Linked DNA regions of Homo sapiens. The protein of the gene in region 2 interacts with the protein of the main gene of each other region in a pairwise test. Each region holds a gene or a part of one and is shown on either strand. Other genes may lie near its edges.

The links. Proteins that work in one complex are often made in the same cells at the same time.
Region 1: the proteins of BEGAIN (region 2) and ZNF648 interact in binary tests that used the Homo sapiens proteins (3 or more experiments, as listed by UniProt).
Region 3: the proteins of BEGAIN (region 2) and KIFC3 interact in binary tests that used the Homo sapiens proteins (3 or more experiments, as listed by UniProt).
Region 4: the proteins of BEGAIN (region 2) and FAM90A1 interact in binary tests that used the Homo sapiens proteins (3 or more experiments, as listed by UniProt).

Annotation. Positions count from the first base shown.
Region 1 is NC_000001.11:182,054,070-182,056,391, forward strand, and holds the end of ZNF648 (zinc finger protein 648), read right to left. Parts: coding exon 2,235-2,322; 3' UTR 501-2,234; downstream 1-500. UniProt on the Homo sapiens protein: May be involved in transcriptional regulation.
Region 2 is NC_000014.9:100,566,127-100,571,231, forward strand, and holds part of BEGAIN (brain-enriched guanylate kinase-associated protein), read right to left. Parts: intron 3,667-5,105; exon of another isoform or gene 3,021-3,666; intron 2,852-3,020; exon of another isoform or gene 2,797-2,851; coding exon of another isoform or gene 2,773-2,796; exon of another isoform or gene 2,565-2,772; intron 2,368-2,564; exon of another isoform or gene 2,340-2,367; coding exon of another isoform or gene 2,319-2,339; intron 2,176-2,318; exon of another isoform or gene 1,814-2,175; coding exon 1,785-1,813; intron 958-1,784; exon of another isoform or gene 799-957; intron 1-798. UniProt on the Homo sapiens protein: May sustain the structure of the postsynaptic density (PSD).
Region 3 is NC_000016.10:57,792,492-57,795,991, forward strand, and holds part of KIFC3 (kinesin-like protein KIFC3), read right to left. Parts: intron 2,651-3,500; coding exon 2,508-2,650; intron 1-2,507. UniProt on the Homo sapiens protein: Minus-end microtubule-dependent motor protein. Involved in apically targeted transport. Required for zonula adherens maintenance.
Region 4 is NC_000012.12:8,220,760-8,224,618, forward strand, and holds the end of FAM90A1 (protein FAM90A1), read right to left. Parts: intron 3,457-3,859; coding exon 3,257-3,456; intron 2,799-3,256; coding exon 2,690-2,798; intron 2,026-2,689; coding exon 1,063-2,025; 3' UTR 501-1,062; downstream 1-500.

The sequences.
Region 1 (2,322 bases), on a different chromosome or scaffold from region 2:
CTACTGGTTCCAATGGGATTCCTTTCTTCTCTAATACCTACTCAGAATGACCCTTGCAGTTGATGTGAGAAAAGACTGGTTGGGACAATTTTCCTTAAAATCTGAGTTGTTTTGTGAAAGGCCTGAAGGACTAATGAACTTCTCTTGGACCTGTTCAGTACATTCTACCCCTTATATTCCAGAAACATAGTATACAGCACCAAAGATACCCAGCACAAGCAAATCCAGCGTTTCTGCCTATTAACAAGTACGCTCACTCCTTCTCCAAAGCTATGCCCATGTGGAAGCCATACCTAGATACCACACTGCAGACCTTTATCAGTATTCAAGGTTAGGGTTCAGCAAGTTATATGGTTAACAAACAGCGCAGGTGACTCCTATGCAACCAGGTTTTGGCGAACAACTCCATAAAAATTATAAAACAAAACCAATTTTTTTAATTTGTAAAAACTATACTAATGACCATCTTCAAGAAAGGATACAATGAAAAGGAGTAATCCTTCAGTCTTCAAATATTTTATTGATTATCTAGGAAAAAAAAGTTAGCTTTTGCTCTCTTCATAGTCACAAGCTCATCTTGTGACTTTTCTACCAATTTAAAGCTCTTGCATCCAGCCAAAGTTTCCGTCATATAGTAGGATCACTCTAACTTTTACCTACTACTATCACTTCTATTTTGCCAATGCAGATGCAGAAACTGAAGCCCAAGGTCACATCAACAGTAAAGGATGGGGATGGACTCTTTTATTACGGTTACCTTGGTCAAACAAGACACAAGACTATCTAGCTATCTAGCTATCTAGCTATCTCTCTTACTTCTCTTTGGCGCCCCCATGTGTCATGAGAATGCTATTTAGAGGTCACACCCTAGTTCCAAATCAGGTGGAAACCAAGAGAAATTCAGATTTGGCATTCTTTGGTGGCAATTTTAGGAATATACTAAAGGTACTCCCCCAAAAAGGGCACTATACCTTCTTATGGAATATCTTATTTAACTTCAGTAAGATGAGAAGTGCCGTTTGCCTATGTGCACCAAGGACATCTGTGGAGTCATAGATTCCTCACAGTTGAGGTTCAGCTAAGAACTACTGACTTTATACAGATCACTATACACATCAATACACTTTGCAGAATGGCTGTTAGTAATGCAAACTTTGAAATAACCTCATTAGATAACTGTGAGCACGTAGGCTTCCATACCTGGTTTTAATGATTTTGAAATGCAGACAAGCCAATGGCACTTGGGCAAAGGGTGTTTTGTTCACTTCAAGTCAAGACTAATGATTCAGACAAATTTAAATGAACCCAAACGGTTTCATGAACCATGGTCAAGGCTTTGTGGAGAAATTATATATGTCTCTCTGTAAATGGGCCAATTGCTTTGTAAATATCACATATGACTTAAGCCCTCAGAGTGCAAACAGGAAAAGAGGCAGCCAGAGAGAAGGCATATATGAATTTATATGAATTCTGTGGGTGAGACTCGGGTTAGATCTACTTACTAAATTCCACTATAAAGAGGAATGGGCTTCTTTTTCAGATGCTAAGGCTGTCCTGAACTTCTAGAATAACTGGAATATGACATAAACCACCTTCTCTAAGATAAAGCCCTTCTCCACTTCAAAGCCAAGACTCATAAAGATATATCCTAAGGGTAAAGCCATTTCTGCAGTCAAGTGAAATGATGGGATGTTGGACTGGGTTTGAGTTCCTCCAAAAACGGCGTTGCTTTGGGGGAGTTCATCATAGGGACCACTTCTGGGGATTCCTTTATTTATATAAAAACCAAAAAGCATCTTTCTCTAAAGAGGACCAGCCCCTCAGGCCTTCTTTTCAGTATTTGCATATGGCTTTGAGGGTAGGACAGGTTAGTCTTTTTCCCCACCTTATCCCTGGAGCCCGGCCCAGTGCCCAGCATGTAATTCTAGAAGCAGTTTCTGATTGATTCAGGTTCCCCAACCCAAGGAACTCAACGTTTGATCAGCTCCCACTACTTTGTCTTTCCCTTTTCCAATTGCTTATGACCTCGGACACTCAGAACCACTGATGTGAAACCACCCACCTGGGTGCTCTCTCGGTGGTGACTTTCTGTTCAAGGGATCAAATAAATAATCAAATGGACCACTGATGACCCGCGACCTGCTGGGAGGCGAGGCTGACCAGTGAGGCTGGCAATACCATGTGAGTGGGCCCACCTGGGAAGGTTCCAAGTAGTGAGGTCGACGATGCTATCTTCACTCGTCAGAGGAGGAAGGGATGGGCTCCTTCTTGCAGGTGCCGTGCTTGGCTCGGTGTCGTTGGAGGTGATTGGACCTGGTGAAG
Region 2 (5,105 bases):
GCCCCACGCCACCCCTGGCAACTCCAGAAAGGCCACATGGCCCGATGCAGCCCAGGAGCCCAGGCCCTGGCCACTGCCTCCAGCCTTTATGGCTTAGCCCAGGGAAGCCTCAGCCCGCCTGGGACAGCAACGCTGACGCCATCAGCAGCTCAGGCAGCAGATCCGCCCACCTGGCACACCTGCCTACCTGTGCACCCAGCCGGGCGGGGTCATGCCTCTGTCCTCAGTGCCTGGCACACAGGAATAGGTGCCGGAGAGCCTTGGCCGGGCACAGGGAAGGAGGGAAAGAGAAAGAGAACCACCGCAGGGAACCCCCAGGCTGGCCTCAGGGCACCCCATGAATGCTAAGTTTTTCCTCAAGTCTCAGCTGAGTTAAGCAGTGTTTCCTCCCCCCCACAGGCGGTACAACCCAGGTGGTGAAATGACAGCCAATGTGGGGCACCAGGGAAGGGCCCTGGCCTGGGCCAGAGCCTGAGTTTGGGCCTGAGGTCATCTGTGTGACCACAGCCAGGGCTGTCGCTCTTTGGGCCTCACCGCCCCCACCTGGACCTTGGCCACGACAAGGTGGGCCTGGCTGATGGGTATCAGGTATTTGGGGTCTGAGATTGAACCACCTCAGAGACTGGACCCCTCCTCCCAGCACAAGACATGTTGGTCCTGTCCCTGTGGGACCCACAGTGGGGGCTGCACATCAGCTCCATGGCCCAGGAGATGGCCCTGCTCTGAGAGTCCACCCTGGGTCTCTGTGTGAGCCCACCTGCCCCCAGGCTCCCACCTGGGTGTTTCCAAGCCACTCACCCACGGCACTAAGGGTCAGCTGGCAGAGCCCAGGGCCCCTCTGCCCTAGACCTGGGCCCAGGCTGGGCTCTGCTCCTTGGGGGAGGGATGCTCCTCTACCCGGCCTCCTCCCCAGGATGCCAATTCTGGCCTCGGGAGGGAGTGGCGAGGACGGAGACCCTGTGGGCCAGGGGAGACAGTGCTGAAACCCAGCAGCCAGAGCTGGGCCTGCCGCCCACACAACGCCTCGGCTCAGGCTCCGGAAGGAAAACACGGGAGGGGTGTTCCCAAAGTAGGGGTCAGGGTGCCAGGGGAAGTCGTGGAGGAAGTGGCAAATATTCAAACTGGCTGATCCCAGGCCTGCCGCGCAGGTGGTCCCGTGAAGTCTACCAAGGCTTAAAGTTTGGCACCGGGAGGGAGGCCGCGGGGGACACTCCCCAGAAGCTGTCGCGGGATTCCCCCAAAATGGCTCCAAGACGCGGCTGCCTGGTCCAGCCGCGAGGACTCCATCCCCCACCCCCGCCCCCCAGAGGCGGACACTTAAAAGCTCAGAGCCAGGCAACTGGCAGCCCGGGGGCTGGGGCGGGTGGTGGTTGGGGGTGGGGTGGGGTCGGGGGAGAGAGCGCCGGGGCAGTGCGGAACGGCACGAACGGAACCCGGAGGGTCCCCGGGGACCAGCGAGAGTCCAGGGCAGGGAGCCAGAGGGGCGCTGAGGACCGCACAGGACCAGGCGGCCCCGGGTAGGGGGCAGCCCGGCCCTCAGTGGCGCTAGCCCCAGCCCCCGCCGCAGCGGCCCGGGCCGGCGGAGGAGCCCCGCGCGAGGCTCCCCAGCGCCTCGCGGCGCGCACACACGCACCACACACACGCACCTGGCCCGCAGCCCCGCCGAGGCCGCCCGCGGGCCCTGGGGGATGCGCTCGGGTGGAGCCCCCTTCCCCCGCCTTCCCCAGCGCCCTCACCCCCGACCCGGCCCCCGCGAGCCGCGGCACGGGAGACGCTCCACTCACCTGAGTTTCTCCATGTCTGCGGCAGAGGCCTGCGAGAAACCAAACGAGAGGGTCAGCAGGCAGGAGGCGTGCGCTCCGCGGCCGCGCCGGGCAGAGCCGGGCACAGCGGGCACGGCCGGGCAACCCCGCGGGGCCCCGTCCGTGGGAAGCCCGGCGCCGCGCGTCCCCAGCTTCCAGTCCCGGCCGCGGCCCCCGTGACTCAGTGGGCGCGCCGGGCCGCGGCCGAGTAACAGGTGAGCCCGCCCGGGCCGCCGCGCTCCCCGCACCGAGTTACGCCCCCCGGGGCGAAGAAGGGGCCGGCCCGGGATGGCCCGGCCAGGGGCGATCTCGGCCTCGCCCGGAGGAGGGGGACTCGGCCTGTCCCCGTTAACTCTCCGGCGGCCGCGGCCCCGCTGCTCCCCCCGCCCCGCCCGTTAACCCTTCCTGCCCCGCGCTCCCTCCCGGAGGAAGCCGAACCCCGGAATCGCAGAACCTCCGAGTCGGAGAATGTTGGGGAATTCGGGGCCGTGCAGGATTGCAGAACCTGACACTCACACAATCCGAGGGCGATGGCATTTGGAGCCTCGACTCCTCAATCAGGGACCCGCTGCCCTCAGATTCTGGGGTTTTGGGCCTGGCTTGCCCCTCCCGGGCCCCAGGGATTAACCCGTGAGCGCCCGGCTCGCCGGCGGGGCTCCCTGCCTTGCTTGCGCAGACCCGCCCGCGCGCGGCTTGGAGACCCTCCCTGCCCAGCCCCGCTCAGCCGGGCAGCCCCTCCGCGCGCCGGGCAGGGGGACCCACCCGCCGCCGTTAACCTTGTGGGCGCGGGCGAGCGACGGGGACCGCGAGCGGCCCGGGCGGGATCGCACTTCCTGCGTGGAGCTGGGGGCGCCGGGCGGGCTCTCTATCACCCGGGAGAGGCCGCTCCCCGGGGCTTTGCCCGTCTTTCTGTGCCGTGACTGGCACTCAAGGGGGACAGGGGTCCGAGCTCAGGGACCACGCGACAGACCTGGGAAGACTGATGACTGCCCATCCCGGCCCCTCGCGCCGGGCGCCGCCGCCGCGTCCGCCGGGAGCGCGCTCCGCTCGGGTCCGGGCCCCACGCCGCCTCCCCCACCGCCCCGCCGGGCGAGGGCGCAGCCCGGCCGCAGCGCCAAGCTAGAAGGCCCGGCCCCGGGGCCTCGGCCAGGCTCGGCCACCAACTTCCCGGGTGCTCGGGCCGGCCTTCCGGCGCTCTCCCGGCCTCAGTTTCCTCACCTGAAAGCTGGGGGGAAGGGGGAGGCAGCTGGACGAGGCGCTCCACTGCCCTTCCGCACCCGCGGGCTGCGGATCGGCTGGGGTGGGGGAAGGAATTTCAGGGGAAGGGATCCCTAAGGCGCCCGGATGGCGGTTCCCCTCCCCAGACGCTCTAAAAGTTGTCCAAGACCACAAGCCTGGACCCCTCCATAAACCCTCCTCCTGCAAGACAAGGAGTTTGCCGGGAAGACTTTGCCGCCGGCCAGCGCGACCCCCACACCGCTCTCTTCCCCAGGCCCACCTTTCCGGGTCCCCATGACAGCGCTTCTCATGCTAGGTCCCAGCATACAGCAGGCGCTCAATAAACACGGACAGTGCATGCCTGGATCCTACGGCACTGGAGCCTGTCTTTCCTGGCCCTTTCCCCTCCTGGCTGTGAGCTCCCGGGCAGGAGCCCTGTGTTCTCACCAGGACACCCCCAGCACCCAGCAGGCTTGGCCTGCGCTGAGCCAGCGCAGGGTGGGAGGAGCCGTCCACTCAGAGGGTCAGACCTGAACCAGGATCAAACCAAACCCAAGAAATCCAAGTGTTCCTCCATCCACGGACACCCACTCGTTCACTAGCTCTGGGCTAAGTTCTCCAGCAGAGAGGGGACAGCAGACAAAGCAGAGAGGGGACAGCAGAGGAAGCAAGCTCTGCTCTCCAGGGGCTAATGAGGAAAACCCCCTCCGCCCCCCTCCGGTCCTGGGAGGCCACCCTCAGCAGAATGGCCACGGTAGTCATAACAATAACGTCCACCGCCCCTTACACATCATAGCGCTTCCCACGGCTCCTCACCACAGCTCTGCCATGGAAGCCCCGGACCCCCTATGCGGGAGCAAAGCTCCAACAGAGAAGAGGCTTGCTGGAGATCCCGCAGCTGAAGGGGCCCAGCTGCGCCTGGACCCCACTGCTCAGGAGCCTTTCCCACCCAAAGGCTGTCTCTGGTTGCCAACCTCAATCACTCACGGCGAATGACCTGCCAGGGAGTTTGTCTAAAATTAATAAGAATGTATTAAAATTTAATTTTAAAAATCTAGCATTAATTATTTACATTGAATGTTTCAGCCCTTCTAAAAGGCCTGGATGGGAATTCCCCCCACCCCCAGAAGGGAACTGGGGGGAAAGGCAGGGGAGGTTGCTGAGCTGCCCTGGTGGAGCAGTGGGGGCTGGGCAGGGCAAGAGACAGGCAGGGAACAGGCAGCCCCTGCCCTTCAAGCCTATTCTAGAGCCTGAAGCCTGGCTTTGATGCTGCTGTAGCTCAAATCCTCCTCTGACCCATTGCCTTCGGGGCAACCACTGCCCTCCCCCTTGGAGGCTGTATCCTCCATGCGGCCCTCTGTGGGAACTCTGGGGAGTCACTGAGTTTACCCCCACACCAGATGGGACAGGACTCTGTGTCCCAGCTCTGTGTCCCTGGACCAGCCCAGCACCTGGCAGGGGCGGGGGGACTAAAAGATGGGTTGTGCCTGATGCTCTCCATGCAGGAGTGACACAGGCATCTTTATGGGTGGCTAGGGAGAAGATAGCAGGGAAGCTCCCCTGGCCGAGGTGCTACGCCCTCGGGGACAGTCTCCCATGAGGCTCCTGCACGGGCCCAGCACCCCGGGTGCAAGTTTTGATTCAGCCATTCATTGACCACAAGACTCGGTGATTTTCGTGAGACCCTTACTACGGGTGAGGAAACGGAGGCCAGCGCATGAAGTGGCTTGCTCAAGTCCCCTGAGGTTAGCCGAGGCCTGCCTGATGGGCTGGAGAACCGCGGCGCTGCCTGGGTCTTGGGCCAGTGGGTGGGGGCCATGAGGATGAGGAGTCTGTGGGGTGCCCCAGGGTTCCCACTGTGAAGTGAGGGGGCGGGATCTCCCTTAGGGAGGCTGGGACCCCAGGGTGCACACTGGGTGCCCTCGGGGGACAGTCCTCATGGCACAGTCCTTCCCCGCCTCTGGGCGCTGTCCAGCCCCATTCACACCCGCTGCCTCTTCCTCCAACACACCTCTCCCCACCGTCTGCCTTAAGTCCCTACCTCTTTCTGGTGGTCCAGCCCAGCAGCCACCTTTATCTTCTGAC
Region 3 (3,500 bases), on a different chromosome or scaffold from region 2:
AGCACAGATATTTGTTTAAGGAGCTCACTGCAATCAGAAACAATACAGAGGATCTGTTATAAATAATTTATGGTAAGCCCTGAAGTAGACTATTACGCAGCCGTGTAAAAGAAAGAGGTAGGGCCGGGCGTAATGGCTCACATCTGTAATCCCAGCACTTTGGGAAGCCAAGGCAGAGCCCACAAGTTCGGGACCAGCCTGGGCAACATGATGAAACCTCCGTCTCTACAAAAATTACAAAAATTAGCCAGGTGTGGTGGCACATGCCAGTAGTCCCAGCTACTCAGGAGGCTGAGGTGAGATGACTTGGCTGGAGGTTGCAGTGAGATTCTACCACTGCATTCCAGCCTGGGCAACAGAGCCAGACCTTGCTCAAAAAAAAAAAAAAAAAAAAAAAAAAAGGGTAGTTCTCTATGTGTTGATGAGCATGAAGAGATTACCAGGACTTACTTGAGGGAAAGAGCTAGTGACAGAATAACATGTAAAATAAATAATAAAAATCATATAAATATGCACTGGGAACTGTGGCTCATGCCTGTAATCCCAGCACTTTGGGAGGTTGAGGCGGGTAGATCACTTGAGGTAAGGAGTTCAAGACCAGCCTGGCCAACATGGTGAAACCCCATCTCTACTAAAAATACAAAAATTAGCCAGGTGTGGTGGCACATGCCTGTAGTCCAGCTATTCGGGAGGCTGAGGCATGAGAATCGCTTGAACCTGGGAGGTGAAGGTTGCAGTGGGCTGCAATCATGCCACTGCACTCCAACCTGGGCAACAGAGTGAGACTCTGTCTCAAAAAAAAAAAAATCATATAAATATGGCTGGGTGCACTGGCTCACACCTGTAATCCCAGCACTTTGGGAGGCTGGGGCGGGCAGATCACTCGAGGTTAGGAGTTCAAGACCAGCCTGGCCAACATGATGAAACCCTGTCTCTACTAAAAATACAAACATTAGCTGGGCACGGTGGCACACGCCTGTAATCCCAGCTACTTGGGAGGCTGAGACAGGAGAATCACTGGAATCCGGGAGGCGGAGGCTGCAGTGAGCTGAGATCATGCCATTGCACTCCAGCCTGGGCGACAGAGCGAGACTCTGTCTCAAAAAAAAAAAACAAAAAAAGAGTTCAAGACCAGCCTGGCCAACATGGTGAAATGGTGAAACCTTATCTCTACTAAAAATATAAAAATTAGCCAGGTGTGATGATGCACACCTGTAATCCCAGCTACTCAGGAGGCTGAGGTAGGAGAATCACTTGAACCCGGGAGGCGGATATTACAGCCAAGATCACGCCACTGCACTCCAGCCTGGGCAACAGAGTGAACGAGACTCCATCTCAAAAATAAAAATCATATAAATTTAATTAAGTGGTTCTATATAGGAAAGATAAACAAATAAACACCAAATACTTAATAGTGGATTTCTCAAAGATAGAGGACTAAGAGAGGCAGTTTCTGGATAACTGTATCTCTGCCCTGTTACAAGGCTAGTTGTGTTGAATGGTCGAATATGTGACCAGCAGCGAGTAACTTAACCTCTCTGAGCCTCCACATCCTCATCTATAAAGCTCAGATCAAATACTGTATCCTGAGATTGTTATGAGTATGATGAGGACTAACATGAGATCTTTTAATGCCTGGCACAGAGTCCATGTTTGATAAACAGTAGCTCTTATTACTATTATCGTTATGTATTATTTCTATAGCCAAATATACATACATATGTAAAGTTTATCTTTTTTCTTTTCTTTTTTTTTTTTTGAGACAGGGTCTCACTCTGTCACGCAGGCTGGAGTGCAGTGGTGCAATCACTGCAGCCTCAACCTCCTGGGCTCAAGCGATCCTCCCACCCCAGCCTCCTGAGTAGCTGGGACTATAGGAACCACCATGCCCAGCTAATTTTTTATTTTTCTTTTTGTAGAGATAGGGTCTCACTATATTGTCCAGGCTGGTCGTGAACTCCTGGGCTCAAGCGATCCTCCTATCTCAGCCTCCCAAAGTGGTGAGATTACAGGCCTGAGCCACCGCGCCTAGCCTTACTTTGTCATTTTAAAGTCACTTGGTGATAACTGCAAGGGAGAAGACCCCAAGTTTTAGTGAATCCTCCATCTAGCTTTGAATTCTCACTTCAAACAAGGAAATATTCCCAAGGAAATACAAGGAAATACTCACATAACCATGTTTCAGAATAATCAACCACCCCAAACCTGCCTGTTTTCCCAATACCTTCTCCAAGCTCTGCCCATCTCAGCTAAGGCCCCATGCTTCCCATTTTAACACCTCAGCCAGGGCATGGCTGAAAAGCTCCTGTCAGCTCCTATGAGATTTCCCGTCTGACTTAATAAAGCAGGCTCCCAGGCAGAGGGGTCATGAGGGGCCCAACAGAGAGGTGCGAGGTGGGTCCCCGGCTCTCCCCAGGTGCTTCCTACCCCCAGAAGCCTGGCAGGAACCCAGCCACTGGAGCTCAGAGAGCCAAGGCACATGCAGCCTGGAAGGCCCCAGTGCTTACCTGCAGGGTCAGGTAGAGCCCGTGGGGGCTTCCGGGGCCAGCCCAGTCCACGCTAAGGGCTCGGCACTGAGCTAGGGCTGGGCGAGCTGCACTTCGGGCACTGGAGTCCTCGTCACCGCAGACTGGGGTATCTTTTCCACGCCCTGTCCCAGGACAGAGAGATAGGTGAGACACTCCGACCACTGGCCAAAGACTGCTAGCCATGGACCACTGGCCAGGGCCGCAGCTGAGCTCAGCTTTCACACATCCCTGGCTGGTCCAGATGTGGCCAGGAGGGGCTCACACACCCAAAAAACGCCTGCCCTGCAGAGGGGAAGGCCTGGCTCGGGGCAGTGGCTACGCTCCTTCCTTACCAAAAGCCGCCCAAAGATTCTCTTCTGGAAGGGGCCCAATACCCCACCGGAGGCTCCCCTATCCCCACAGTGGCTTTTGGGGCAGGCATCTGCTCAGCAGGGAAGTGGAAGGAAGCCATTGCCAGCCAGCCTGCATGAAGCTTTGAGGACTTGCACAGGGGCTATGGCTTTATTACCCCGGCTGCCTCTAGGTGGCAATTTCTTCCCTGACTTCATTAAGACAAAATCCAAACCAGGTGGCCCAGCCTCCGTTGCCTCCCCAAGCGTATTCAGAACCAGCTAACGTGCATCCCCTTGTGCCTCTGACACACCGCCTCCCTCACCCATGGGAGAGAGGGCGGGCTGTGGCAGCAATGCCCCAGCCACCCACCTCCACCTGCAGGGCTGAACAGGGTGGGATGGGGGCCAGCCTCACGAGTCATGAGGCACACTGCAGAGCCACTACCCTGGGGCGTAACAATATCCCGAGTGCCAGCCACTGGGCCAAGTGCTTTTCAGGCCTTACACACATTCTGTTTTTTTGGGCTTTTTTGTTTTTTTTTTTTTTTTTTTTTTTTTTTGAGACAGGGCCTCTCTCTGTTGCCCAGGCTGGAGTGCAGTGGTGCGATCTTGGCTCACTGCAACCTCCACCTCCCGGGTT
Region 4 (3,859 bases), on a different chromosome or scaffold from region 2:
CTCTGAGCTAGGAGAAAAGCTGCCCTGTGGCGGGAGGCGAGACATGTTGGCAGTAGTGCTGCCTTGTTATTCTTTACTCCACTGAGATATTTGGGTGGAGAGAAACATAAATCTGGCCTACGTGCACGTCCAGGCATAGTACCTTCCCTTGAACTTAATTATGATATAGATTCTTTTGCTCACATGTTTTTTTTGTTGACCTTCTCCTTCTTATCACCCTGCTCTCCTACTACATTCCTTTTTGCTGAAGTAATGAAAATCATAATAAAAAAAACTGAGGGAACTCAGAGGCCGGTGCCGGTGCAGGTCCTTGGTGTGCTGAGTGCCGGTCCCCTGGACCCAGTGTTGTTTCCCTATACTTTGTCTCTGTGTCTTATTTCTTTTCTCCGTCTCTCATCCCACCCGACTAGAAACACCCACAGGTGTGGAGGGGCAGGCCACCCCTTCACTTGGAAAATCAGTTAAACACAAACACGGAATGAAAGTCAAAAGACAATATGTCATCTTTTTGAGAATTTTATTCACTTCAAAACAAATTCAACACACCTATTTACAAAGGGATTCCAGAGCCCACTTTTCGAGGCTGAGGAAAGACCCCGAGAGCGCTTTGCACAGCGCGCTTCCCAGCGTCCGAAACACTGCTCTCAGGGCGGGGCACAGCGGAAGGGCTGCACCTCTCAGGGTTCCCTAACTTTTCCCTTATTCAGTCGTCTAGAGAGCAAATACACAGTAATTCCCCCGTTTCCTATTGACGTCCCAGCGGAAGTCTGACTCCTGCGCGTCATGCAGTTTCTGAGGCAACGAATCACTGGCACGGAAGCTTTTCCTGGCGCGTTTCCAGAGAACCATGCGAACTACAATGTCCCTCACCAGAATTCAACGTGGCAGAGTCCCTGCATCTGCTCCCTGCCTGGCCTGGGCTCCCACATCCACAGAAGGGCCACAGCCGGGGAGCTTCGGAGTCACCGCACAGAGTCTGCTCTCTGCTCTGTGCTCCTCAGTCCCACAGTCCCCTCCAAGTCACGGGAGCTGGAGGCCAAGGAGCCCCTGCCACCTGCAGTCTCACTCCAGGTCAGAATCGCTGTCCTCTGAGGAGGAGGGAACCTGAAGGTCCTCATAGAGGACGCTTGGTGGGACACGAACACAGGGACCCTCAGACTTCTCTGAGACATGAGGGCTCTGAGCGAGGAAGGCTCCCGGCTTCTCAGGAGAGTGAAATGAGGGGGCCGTCAGCAGGCTGGAGCTCCAGCGTCCGTTTTCCAGTCTCCGAAAGAGCACTCTGAGAGGCTGGGCCCCATCATGGCTGGCCGCTGGGTGATGGGACATGGTGCAGGCCTGGGCAGTAGGCAGGCAAGGTCTGCTGTGCGGAGGCTGCCGGTCGCCGCTAAGCACCTGGGCGGGTGTCCTCGTGCCTGTCTGGGGTGACGTACGTGGTCCAAGTTCGGTTGCGGCTGGCGGAGGTTGGAGATTCTCCGGGGCCCCCAGCTCACCTCCCTGGATGGCGCTTTCGGGGATCTGGAAGGGACCCAGTCTCGGTTTCTTGGGGAAGTTCAGGCAAGCCTGAATCGGAGCCGGGGCAGATCTCTTGGCTCCTGGCCCGAAGCTGAGATTGGAGCCTAGGCCCAAGCTGTGTGTGGCGGCTGGTGGGCAGGGCTGTGAGGTCACCGCAGGACGTTTGTCTTGTGCCTGGGGGCTGACGGCCTGGAGCAGGCCGTGGGTTTTGGAGGCAGCCTGGGGAACTTCTCGACAGCCACCCGCAGGGCTGCTGTGTGTCGGCTTCACCACGAGGAGAGGCTCGGGGCCCTGGTGCCTGACTGCAGTCTGAGGGATGTCGGCCGCAGCCCCTGTCTGTCTTTCCTTTGGTCCAAGACTTGAGGAGGAGCTCAGACTGGCTTTTCTGAGGGGAGACAGTGAAGCTAAGACGGAGCCCCTGTCAGACATTTCGGTAGCTGAGCGATCAGAGAGGACAGGGTCCACACGCGGCCTCTTACTGGTTGTGTGGACCGGCATTGGCCCGCTTGCAACCTGAAAGAGAGGAAACAACACAGGTTAGAAGTTCCTCAGCATGGAGCCAACATGAAAATCAACCACATCCAAAGACAAGGTGCACACGCCATGAAATTCTTAGTACACTATCGACAGGCGGTCCTTGGAAGTAGGGACAGACCCTCCACCTGAGTGCTGATCAGGACAAGACACATGAAAGATGCGCTCTCGAGCTATGTGTAGCTGATCTAAGCACACCATTGTTCAAAAGATTGCGTCTTAGGCATTAGCTGGATCAAAGCGCCTCCACTCAGCCTTCCATGAAGTGGAACCGACTGATGCCCTTCCGAAGGCAGGTTGGTGGCTCAAGGGTACTCAGGACGTCTTCTCTGAACATATGCATGTTCCTGGGTTTAGCCTTCTCCACGTTTGGGGCCTCTGAGGGACTAATTTCCTCATGCCGCTAGGAACGTGTTGTTGGCAGGCTTGCCATAATTGGACAGAAAGAAAGCAACAGGAAATACGGCATCTTCAGATGCCTTCGCCTGGAATCAAATTGACCTGGAAGGATCGTGGAGTGTCTGACCCCAAGAAGGCAAGAAAGAGGGGTTCCCCGATTCCCTCCCGCAGACGGGAAGCTGAAAGGAAATCAACCAGGGTGACCTAGAGGAGAAAAAGACCAGGGGCCCAGGGTGACCCTCACCCTCAGATAATCAGAAGATTCCGTGGATCCTTTTTGATTTGGCAGCGGCTTCTCTGGAGGTTTCCTGGAAAATATGTGGAGGAGAGCCTTCCTCTGCGGGTCTTGTGGCCTGCAGAACAGAAAAAGGTCAGGCCGTCCTCCCTGGTTTTCCCCAGGAGACGGGGAGAACCCTGTCTGGGGCCCAGTCCCATTCCGTGTTTTGTGATACAGAAATGGACATCTGGTGCCCTTTCCGCCTCTGCACCTTCCCTCACGTGCCAACCTTCCCATCCTCCAGGTGGCCCTCTAGGCTTCCCAACTAAGGACTGTGATTTGGATTCCATCACTTTTCCCCCTGTCGTGGGGAACCTGCACGAAGCGCCCCCGCCCCTCCCCGTCCCTGAATCTCCCAGAGCCAAAGGAGCTCTTGGGTGTGGAACTCCGGAAGACACAGAGCTCCGGTCTGTTTCTCTGCAGCGTTCCTTCCCTGGCCCGGAGACGGAAAGGCACACGGTGTGCAGGTGCAGAGACACCATGTCCTTAGGAGGCAGTACCCTAAGAGTGGTGAAAACCACTCCCACTGCTCACCTTGGTCTCTCTTCCTTCTCTCCCTTATCCTTGTTCAAGGGCCCAGGGTTCGCTTCAACCTGGGGCTTCCATGGTTTCAGGTTTTCCTTCCCTTCCTTTTCCCCAAAGTTCGGTGGAACCAGGGCTGCCTTCCAGCACTTCATGGGGCACCTGGTACTTCTGGCCGTGTGGCCAAAGGCCTCACAGTTTTTGCACTTGAGCTGTGGGTGGAAAGGAAGTGATGTCAGTGAGTGAGCTGAAGCCACAGGCACCGATCCCACGTCAACATTGAGACGGATTGTGAATTCAGAGCTGAATAAGGATTCCAAAGAGGGGACACCGGCATGGGGGCCGTTAAGTGCTGGGAGAGTTCGGATACGATGTTCCCTCCCAAAGCCCATGTGACGGAGGAACTCTAAAAGGCAGGACTCAAGGTCCTAAGGGGCACGATGGTGAACCCGATGTCAACAACACAGCCAAACGTGGCTACACAGGACTCTAAGTAGAAAGGGAGGTTGCCCCCAAGAGTCTCTCAAGGGGCCTATCGGGCCGGGGAGGAGGTCCCAAGCCACGCCCACCTTGGATGGGAAAAGCAACCTGGGTGGTGGTGACAGAACTCTTTGG